Linked DNA regions of Homo sapiens. The protein of the gene in region 2 interacts with the protein of the main gene of each other region in a pairwise test. Each region holds a gene or a part of one and is shown on either strand. Other genes may lie near its edges. The genes, in order: ARNT2 and TACC3.

What was found.
Region 1: the proteins of TACC3 (region 2) and ARNT2 interact in a two-hybrid assay, tested with the Homo sapiens proteins (one large-scale study listed by BioGRID and IntAct).

The regions. Positions count from the first base shown.
Region 1 is NC_000015.10:80,470,088-80,473,898, forward strand, and holds part of ARNT2 (aryl hydrocarbon receptor nuclear translocator 2), read left to right. Parts: intron 1-130; coding exon 131-344; intron 345-3,811. UniProt on the Homo sapiens protein: Transcription factor that plays a role in the development of the hypothalamo-pituitary axis, postnatal brain growth, and visual and renal function. Specifically recognizes the xenobiotic response element (XRE).
Region 2 is NC_000004.12:1,734,875-1,738,685, reverse strand, and holds part of TACC3 (transforming acidic coiled-coil-containing protein 3), read right to left. Parts: intron 3,414-3,811; coding exon 3,361-3,413; intron 2,956-3,360; coding exon 2,852-2,955; intron 1,446-2,851; coding exon 1,358-1,445; intron 1,089-1,357; coding exon 984-1,088; coding exon of another isoform or gene 972-983; intron 339-971; coding exon of another isoform or gene 294-338; exon of another isoform or gene 1-293. UniProt on the Homo sapiens protein: Plays a role in the microtubule-dependent coupling of the nucleus and the centrosome. Involved in the processes that regulate centrosome-mediated interkinetic nuclear migration (INM) of neural progenitors.

The DNA.
Region 1 (3,811 bases), on a different chromosome or scaffold from region 2:
ACTCAGCTGTTAGGTGTTAGCCCCTAGTTCCTGGTCATTTGGTGTTAATGGTTTTATCCCATTAGATAGTAATCCCTAATCTGATACTTCTCTTTTTTCCCCCTCTCCTGATCTCGTGCTTTCTGGAAAGAGAGAATCATAGTGAAATCGAAAGGCGCAGACGGAACAAGATGACTCAGTACATCACGGAGCTCTCCGACATGGTCCCCACATGCAGCGCACTGGCTCGGAAGCCAGACAAGCTCACCATCCTCCGCATGGCCGTCTCGCACATGAAGTCCATGAGGGGTACAGGGAACAAGTCCACCGATGGCGCGTACAAGCCTTCCTTCCTCACAGAGCAGGTACCCTGGTCATCACATCACCATTGGAAAGCGGGGGGAATCCCAGCGTCACCAAGACGAAATAAACTACGTGGGGAACCAGGGCTCAAGGTTGAGGAAGGAATGAAGCCAACATGTTTTGTTTCCATTTTTCTCCAAGAAGCTGTCTTCAAAAGAGGGTTTGTCTGATCTTTGGGTCTTCTGCTTTTATGTTTCCCATAACCTTAATGGGATGTCACTCAAAAAAATATATTGAGCATTTGAACATCGTGCTCAGCACACTGACACAGGAAGAAGTTAGTAAAAACGCTGTATGCTGGAATTGTGCTGATATGATCAGCCTATGAAAGTGATGGTATATGAAAAAATCTCCACATCACTGATCATTAGAGAAGTGCAAATCAAAACCACTATGAGATACCATCTCACTCCAGTCAGAATGGCTATTACTAAAAAGTCAAAAAGTAACAGATGCTAGTGAGGTTGCAGAGAAAAGGGAACACTTATACACTGCTGGTGGGAGTGTAAACTAGCTCAACCATTGTAGAAAGCAGTGTGGAGGTTCCTCAAAGAGCTAAAAACGGAAATACCATTTGACCCAGCAACCCCATTACTGGGTTTATACCCAAGGGAATATAAATCGTTCTACATAAAGACATATGCTTACGTATGTTCATTGCAGCACTATTCACAATAGCAAAGACATGGACTCAACATAAATGTTCATCAATGACAGATTGGATAAAGATAATGTGGTACATATACACCATAGAATACTACACAGCCATATAAAAGAATGAGATCATGTCCTTTGCAGGAACATGGATGGAGCTGGAGGCCACTATCCTTAGCAAACTAATGCAGGAACAGAAAACCAAATACCACATGTTCCCACTTGTAAGTGGGGGCTGAATGATGAGAACACATGGACACAAAGAGGGGAACAACAGACATTGGAGCCTCCTAGAGGATGGAGGTTGGGAGGAGGGAGAGGATCAGAAAAAATAACTAATGGGTACTGGGCTTAGGATCTGGGTGATGAAATAATTTGTATAACAAATTTTCGTGACATGAGTTTACTCCCTTGGCAGTACGTAACAAACCTGCATGTGTACCCCTGAAAAAAGTTAAAGAAAAAAGACAGTGATGGCAGCAGTAGTGATAATAGTAGCCGCGATCAGAGCACTTAGCCGGCCGGCATTTGCTGGGTGCCTGGTGTGAGTCATAGTTTTCTGTGAAATATCTCATTTACTACTTATTCTAGCCCTGTGAAGAAGCCACTGTTATTTAGCTCTGTTTTATTGATGAGGAAGCTGAGGCTTAGAGTCAGCAGATTGCTCAGGGTTAATCTGCTGCTTAGTGGAGGAGCCAAGATTGGGTCCAGTGAAGACAGGCTGGTAGGACCCCAAAGCCATATTTTTAACACCTACACTAGTCTTTGACTAGTTGGCAAGAAGAAACGCACAAAATGGCTAGTGAGGTCGTATTTTATAAGTGGCTTTACATGAGCCAGAGGCCTGTGTTCAGGGTCTTTGTATTTCCATGTGCTGGTCATAGGGCAAGTTGGCAAATACTCTAAGCTTCAGTGTGCTCATCTGTGAAATGAACATAAAGCTTTTTGCTTTCCTGTCTCCAAGAGCTTTTGCAGGATAAATGAGGTGATGGATTTGAAAGCACTTCATTGTGTATAGCCGGTGGGGGGGCATTGGGGTGGGGAGGTGAAATAATACAGTTGTCAGGGCATGCAGTTAGGAAATGCAAAAGTATGTAGGGTATAGGGTCCTAAAAGTAATGGAGGATTTAACAAGACACAGCGTGTGGCCAAGCTGAAATAGAGTGGAAGTGTCCTGGTATTATCAAGAGGGACTTCTCAGGACAGAGACAGTATTGGCATAGAAAGGAGCCACAAAAAATACCTAGAAAGAGGGGAGCAGAAGGGATTTCACAAAAAGGGAAGAGTGTGTACAGAACCTCACAGGCAGGAATGAAAAAGATTTTGTTGGGAGACCTAATGATTTATTCTGCTAGAGCCGAGACTCGATTTATGTCATGGAAGTTAGGTTTAAAAAGAATAAGGGATGAGGAACTAACGTTTATTACTGTCTGTTCTGTGGCAGACACTTTAGCAAGCACTTCACCTATTTGATCCCTTTCTAAATCATCCCAGTGGTCATGGGAGCCCTCGCTTGGCAGATGTTAGGAAGGTCCAGCAGTGGTAATATGTGCCACTTGGAGGACACAAACTGTGGTGGTCAGGGCAGGAGCTTCAAGCCTCATTTCCACCTCTGTAAAAATAAATGCAGTGATAGCTCCCAGCTCGTGTGGTTGTGGTGAGGAAGGCAACAAGCATAGACTGTTTAACATGGGCCTGAGGTATAATGAAGGGTAAATAGCTGGTAAGTAACAGACAGAAATTATTGAGCACTACTGGCTGCTAGAATCAGTTTTTTGTCTATATTTTTTTAATCCTCACCAAAAGACCTACAGAGTCAAGGTTTGAAATGAATCTCGTTATCTTTAAGTGACTGAGGATTATGAAAGTGGCGTGAAGAGAGAAGGCAGCTATGCAGGTCAGATGAGCCCTACCTTTGTTCCTCTCTCAGCTGCTTGGATGGTGATGATAATGGTTACATTTATGGAGCACCTACTGTGTGCCAGGCCCTTACTAAGTCCTCACACACAGCATCTCATTTAACCTTGCAAGAGCTCACTGAAAAACATTGCTGAGGGCGTGAAGTAACATGCCCAAAGTTGCACAGCTAAGTGGGAGAGCGGTAGGTGATAGTCTCCTTTTACTCCAGAATACATGCTCTTAACCGTGACTGTTTTCTTGGAGTGTAGAGGCTGGTTCTGGATCAGGGCACAGGAACTTGGTAGTGATAGATGGTCTCCCAGGGAATACACATCAGGGAGGAGGGTGGAAAAAAGAGGGTCCGTGATGCGAGCAGGGCTTCATCCCATAAGACCTCCCCACAGTCTTTGCAAACTGGACAAAAATGTGAATTCATGAGTAAAGTCATTCAGTCTCCACTTCCTCTCCTCCAGTGACAAAGAATTCTGTACTTCCCCAGGCACCCTCTTCCGTTTTTAATTCTCTTAACAGCTCTTTCTGTTGGGAAGATCATCCAAAAACTGAAAATAAAAATGCTGACCGAATTCCCTGAACTAATTAAGCATCTAGGTGACGCAGAACAGCAAAAGTGCAAAGCAAGAGAAATGGGCAAAATAAACTTATCCTTAAAAAATGCTTGTACCAACTGCTTCTGCCCTGGTTTCCCAGGCAGAGGATGTTAGAATTCCTCCCCAGCCAAGGGCTTAGACACATTTACAAAGCTCCCTGGGTTCTGCTCATCAGCATATCAATGTTCCCTAGTCTCTGGGTCCTTGTACCCTGCTCAGTTACTGGGATTTGGGGCGCCAGACTCTCCACCTTTTGCCTTCACTCTGCTGGCTGTCCATGTGCTTTACAGTGGGGTTTTCACATAAGA
Region 2 (3,811 bases):
CCTTCCCCTCCCTTGTTCAGGTGTGCTCTTGCCATTGCTCCATCTGCGAGGGGCACCCTTTCTGCAGAAAGTAAAAACTGCCTTGCTGAGAAAATTAATGTTCGAGCACTATTTCTTTGTGGCACCAGAGAACAAGCATTGTGCATTTCTAACATAAGTTACATGCAGGGGCCACCTGCCCCCGGAGCCCAGGCCTGCAGAGGAGGGGGCCAGCCACACTGTGGTCCCCAGGCCTGCTATTGGGTTACTCACACGGGCTCTGACACAGGGAAGGAGGTTGTTGGGGTACGGGGTCAGGGCCACATCACAGGCCTCTGCGGAGATGACACCTGGGGCCACTGTGAACAACACTGGTGTGGATGTTGGGGCTTGAACCCAGCCCTGCCAGCCGGCCTCCGGAACCACCCTGTCTGCACCTCCCTGGGGACCATCTGGCGACGGTAGCTCACAGTGGTGCCTGCAGACACCCAGCCCCTTTGTGTGCCTACAGCTCTCTTAGGGACAATTTAGGCCCGGAGTTAGAACAGGCTGAAGCCTGGCATGTACAGTGAGGATGGAGGGAGACAAGGCACGGGACCCTCAGATGTGGGGTGGGTGAAGATGGAGCTTCCTAAGCTGCCAGGAGATGCGTCTGGACTCGTGGGAGGGCGGGAGGAAAGGGGCGACACTCGGGCTCACGGCAGCAAGAACCACACTCACTGCTGCAAGGCCACCAGAGGCCAACGCCATGCCCAGGCCGGAGAGTCCCGGGGAGGCTGCTGGTGGGCAGCTGACTGCGGGGACACTGGGTGGAAGCCTGGACCCTCAGCGACCTGGGCAGTAGTGACAGGCCAGGGGCCGGCAGCTCTCTGCAATTCCACCCCAACCAGCAGGGGCAGGGATGGCAGGGATGGCGGGTCAGGCTGTTGGACCCCTGCCCACTGTTGGCCAAGCCCCAGAGCGGCCTGCAGGTTCTGTGGAATAGCTACTACCTGCGTCCTTACCACTGCATCCAGGTCCTTCTGGCTGTACTGGAGCAGGTCCACTATAGGTCCGGTGGACAGGGGTGGGCCCCCAGGCGCGGGAACACCTGGGGGTGGGCCTGGCACCTGCGGGAGATGGGGATGAAACAGGAACCCATTTCGCCCTTGCCTCTTACCTCTGACCTAGTGTGAGGGAGGAAAGGCCCACACAGGCCAAGAGCCTCAGACAGTGCATGAGGGACCCGAGACAGTGCGGCGAGGGAACAGCACAGCGGCCCCATGCCCCCAACAAAACCAAAGGCTCAGACCCCCAGGAATAGAAAATATAGGCCCTTAAAACAACTCGTTCCCTCAGACCACACACAAGACAGTTCAAGAGGGACTCAAGGACTTACAGGAATGTCCAGTGCTCCCAAGAAATCGAACTCCACAAGCTTGGCTTCCCGCGGACGTCCTGAGGGAGTCTCATTTGCACCGTGCATGCTGCCACCAAGCAGAGGCAGCCTCAGTCACTAGGCCCTCCCAGTGTTGAGTAGGACACAGAGGACCATGTGGACAAGCTAACCGGGCTCTTTGCTTTTTAGTTTAAAACCACTCAAGTCAGGGTAGTGGTAGAAAACGCAGACCCGCATCCAGCATGCCCGGCCTCTCTGCTGCTCCGTGCCCCCCTCCCTCACCTGCCCATCCCACGTGGCTGCTTGTCCTTCCGGGAGAGCACGGTGACGCTTCATTACCCACTGCAGGCTGAGCGGAGCCAGTGCTGCCTCATCAGGGGGCTGTTCACAGCTCAGAGCCTTTTTTTTTTTCTTTTTCCGAGACAGGGTCTCACTCTGTCACCCAGATTGGAGTGCAGTGGCATGATCTCGGCTCCCTGCAACCCCTGCCTCCCAGGCTCACCCGATTCTCCTGCTTCAGCAACCCAAGTAGCTGGGATTACAGGCGCCTGCCGCCTCACCCGGCTAATTTTTGTTATTTTTAGTAGAGATGGGGGTTCACTATGTTGGCCAGGCTGGTCTCAAACTCCTGACCTCAGGCGATCCACCCGCCTCAGCCTCCCAAAGGGCTGGGATTCCAGGTGTGAGCCACTGCGCCCGGCCATGTGTTAGGATTTGAAGGCCACACAGCCTCTGTCACACTACTCAGTTCTGGCCTTGTAGTGTGAAAGTTGCCACAATTTGCAAAGGAACGGGCATGGCTCTGTGACGATAAAACTTTACACAAACAGGCAGTGGCCAAGTCTGGCCCACAGGTGATAGTTTGCTGACCTCTATTTTTTGGTTTTTTTTTTTTTTTTTTTTTTTGAGATGGAGTCTCACTCTGTTGCCCAGGCTGGAGTGCAGTGGCGCAATCTCAGCTCACTGCAACCTCCGCCTCCTGGGTTCAAGCAATTCTCCTGCCTCGGCTTCCCAAGTAGCTGAGACTACAGGTGCATGCCGTCACACCCGGCTAATTTTTGTATTTTAGTAGAGACGGGGTTTCAACATGTTGCCCAGGCTGGTGGCAAACTCCTGAGCTGAGGCTATCCATCCACCTCGGCCTCCCAAAGTGCTGGGATTACAGGCGTAAGCCACCGCGCCTGGCCTGCCGACCTCTGTTTTAGAGGAAGTACTCTTAAAAGATTTAAGTTTAGATCTTTAATATACCTAGAACGGTGGCTGTAACCAGCAAGGCAGCAGCCCTGTGGCTGGAGGGTAGGCTGCCGTTGCTCCTGCCAGACACACAAGGGCTGCTCTGGCCTTGCTGCCCAGCCCACCCCTAGCACAGCTCCTTTCCAGTTCTGATCATCTCCCCCCGGTCTAGAAGCCTCTGTGCAGACAGCACACCTAGGAACAGCCTCCAGTCTTCCCACACTCAAGGCTTCATGCATGAGGGAGGGCCGGCGCACATACCTGCTGGTCTCGGTGGCCACGGGCACTGGTCTACCAGGACTGTCCCTCAGGAGGGGGTCGAACTTGAGGTATAAGGACTGCTTCCTCAAGGCCGACTCCTTAAACTGGGGACAAGAGGGCAAGTGATCAGGTCTGACTGCCATCCCCTAACACACACGGGGGCTAAGGGCCAGGGAGGTCACCTGCACACTCCCACCCCCGGTCACCCGCACACTCCCACCCCCGGTCACCCACAACCCTGCCCGAGACACCACCATTCCCAGCAGCACAGCGTGTCAGAGTTTCATCCTGGGCTAGGCACCAGGTAGAGAGCCCTAGAGCCCTGCCACAGGACACCACTTAGAGGAGGTGCTGCAGAAGGGGCCCTGGATTCACAGCCCGCCACAATGCCTGGGCCTGTGTGCAGCTGGGGGGACGTGGGCACCAAGGGACGCTCCGGGGGCAAGACCTGCCGTGGCTGCTCTCGGACACCCTGTGGGTGAGGCTTCGCGGAATTGCCTGGTACCTACCGAGGAAGTTCCAAACTGCTCCAGGTAATCCACCTCCGCGCCCGTGCCTAGAACTGAGAGGAGTGAATCATGCCGCCGCCATCGCCCCTCACCAGGGCCCTAAGGGCGGCGGGCTGGTGTCTCCCTCAGCACTCAGTGAGGCAGGATCATTCCAGCCAGCAGTATTTCCTCCCTTGGAGGTGTGGATGTTCGGGGCCTGACTGCTGTCTGCGGCAGGCGCCTCCTGGGCACCGCAGGGTGCTGAGCGGCATCCCCAGCCTCTACCCACTCCCTGCCAGCAGCACCTCCAGGTGTGACAACCACAAACATCTGGGGAAAGGCGGGGGCAAAACTGCTCTGGTTGAGAACTATTAGTCTTTAAAATTACCCTAGACAAGTCTTTTAATTTTTGATAATATAACTTTTGATTAAAACTAAGGGTGGAGGCTGAGGCGAGTGGATCACTTGAGCC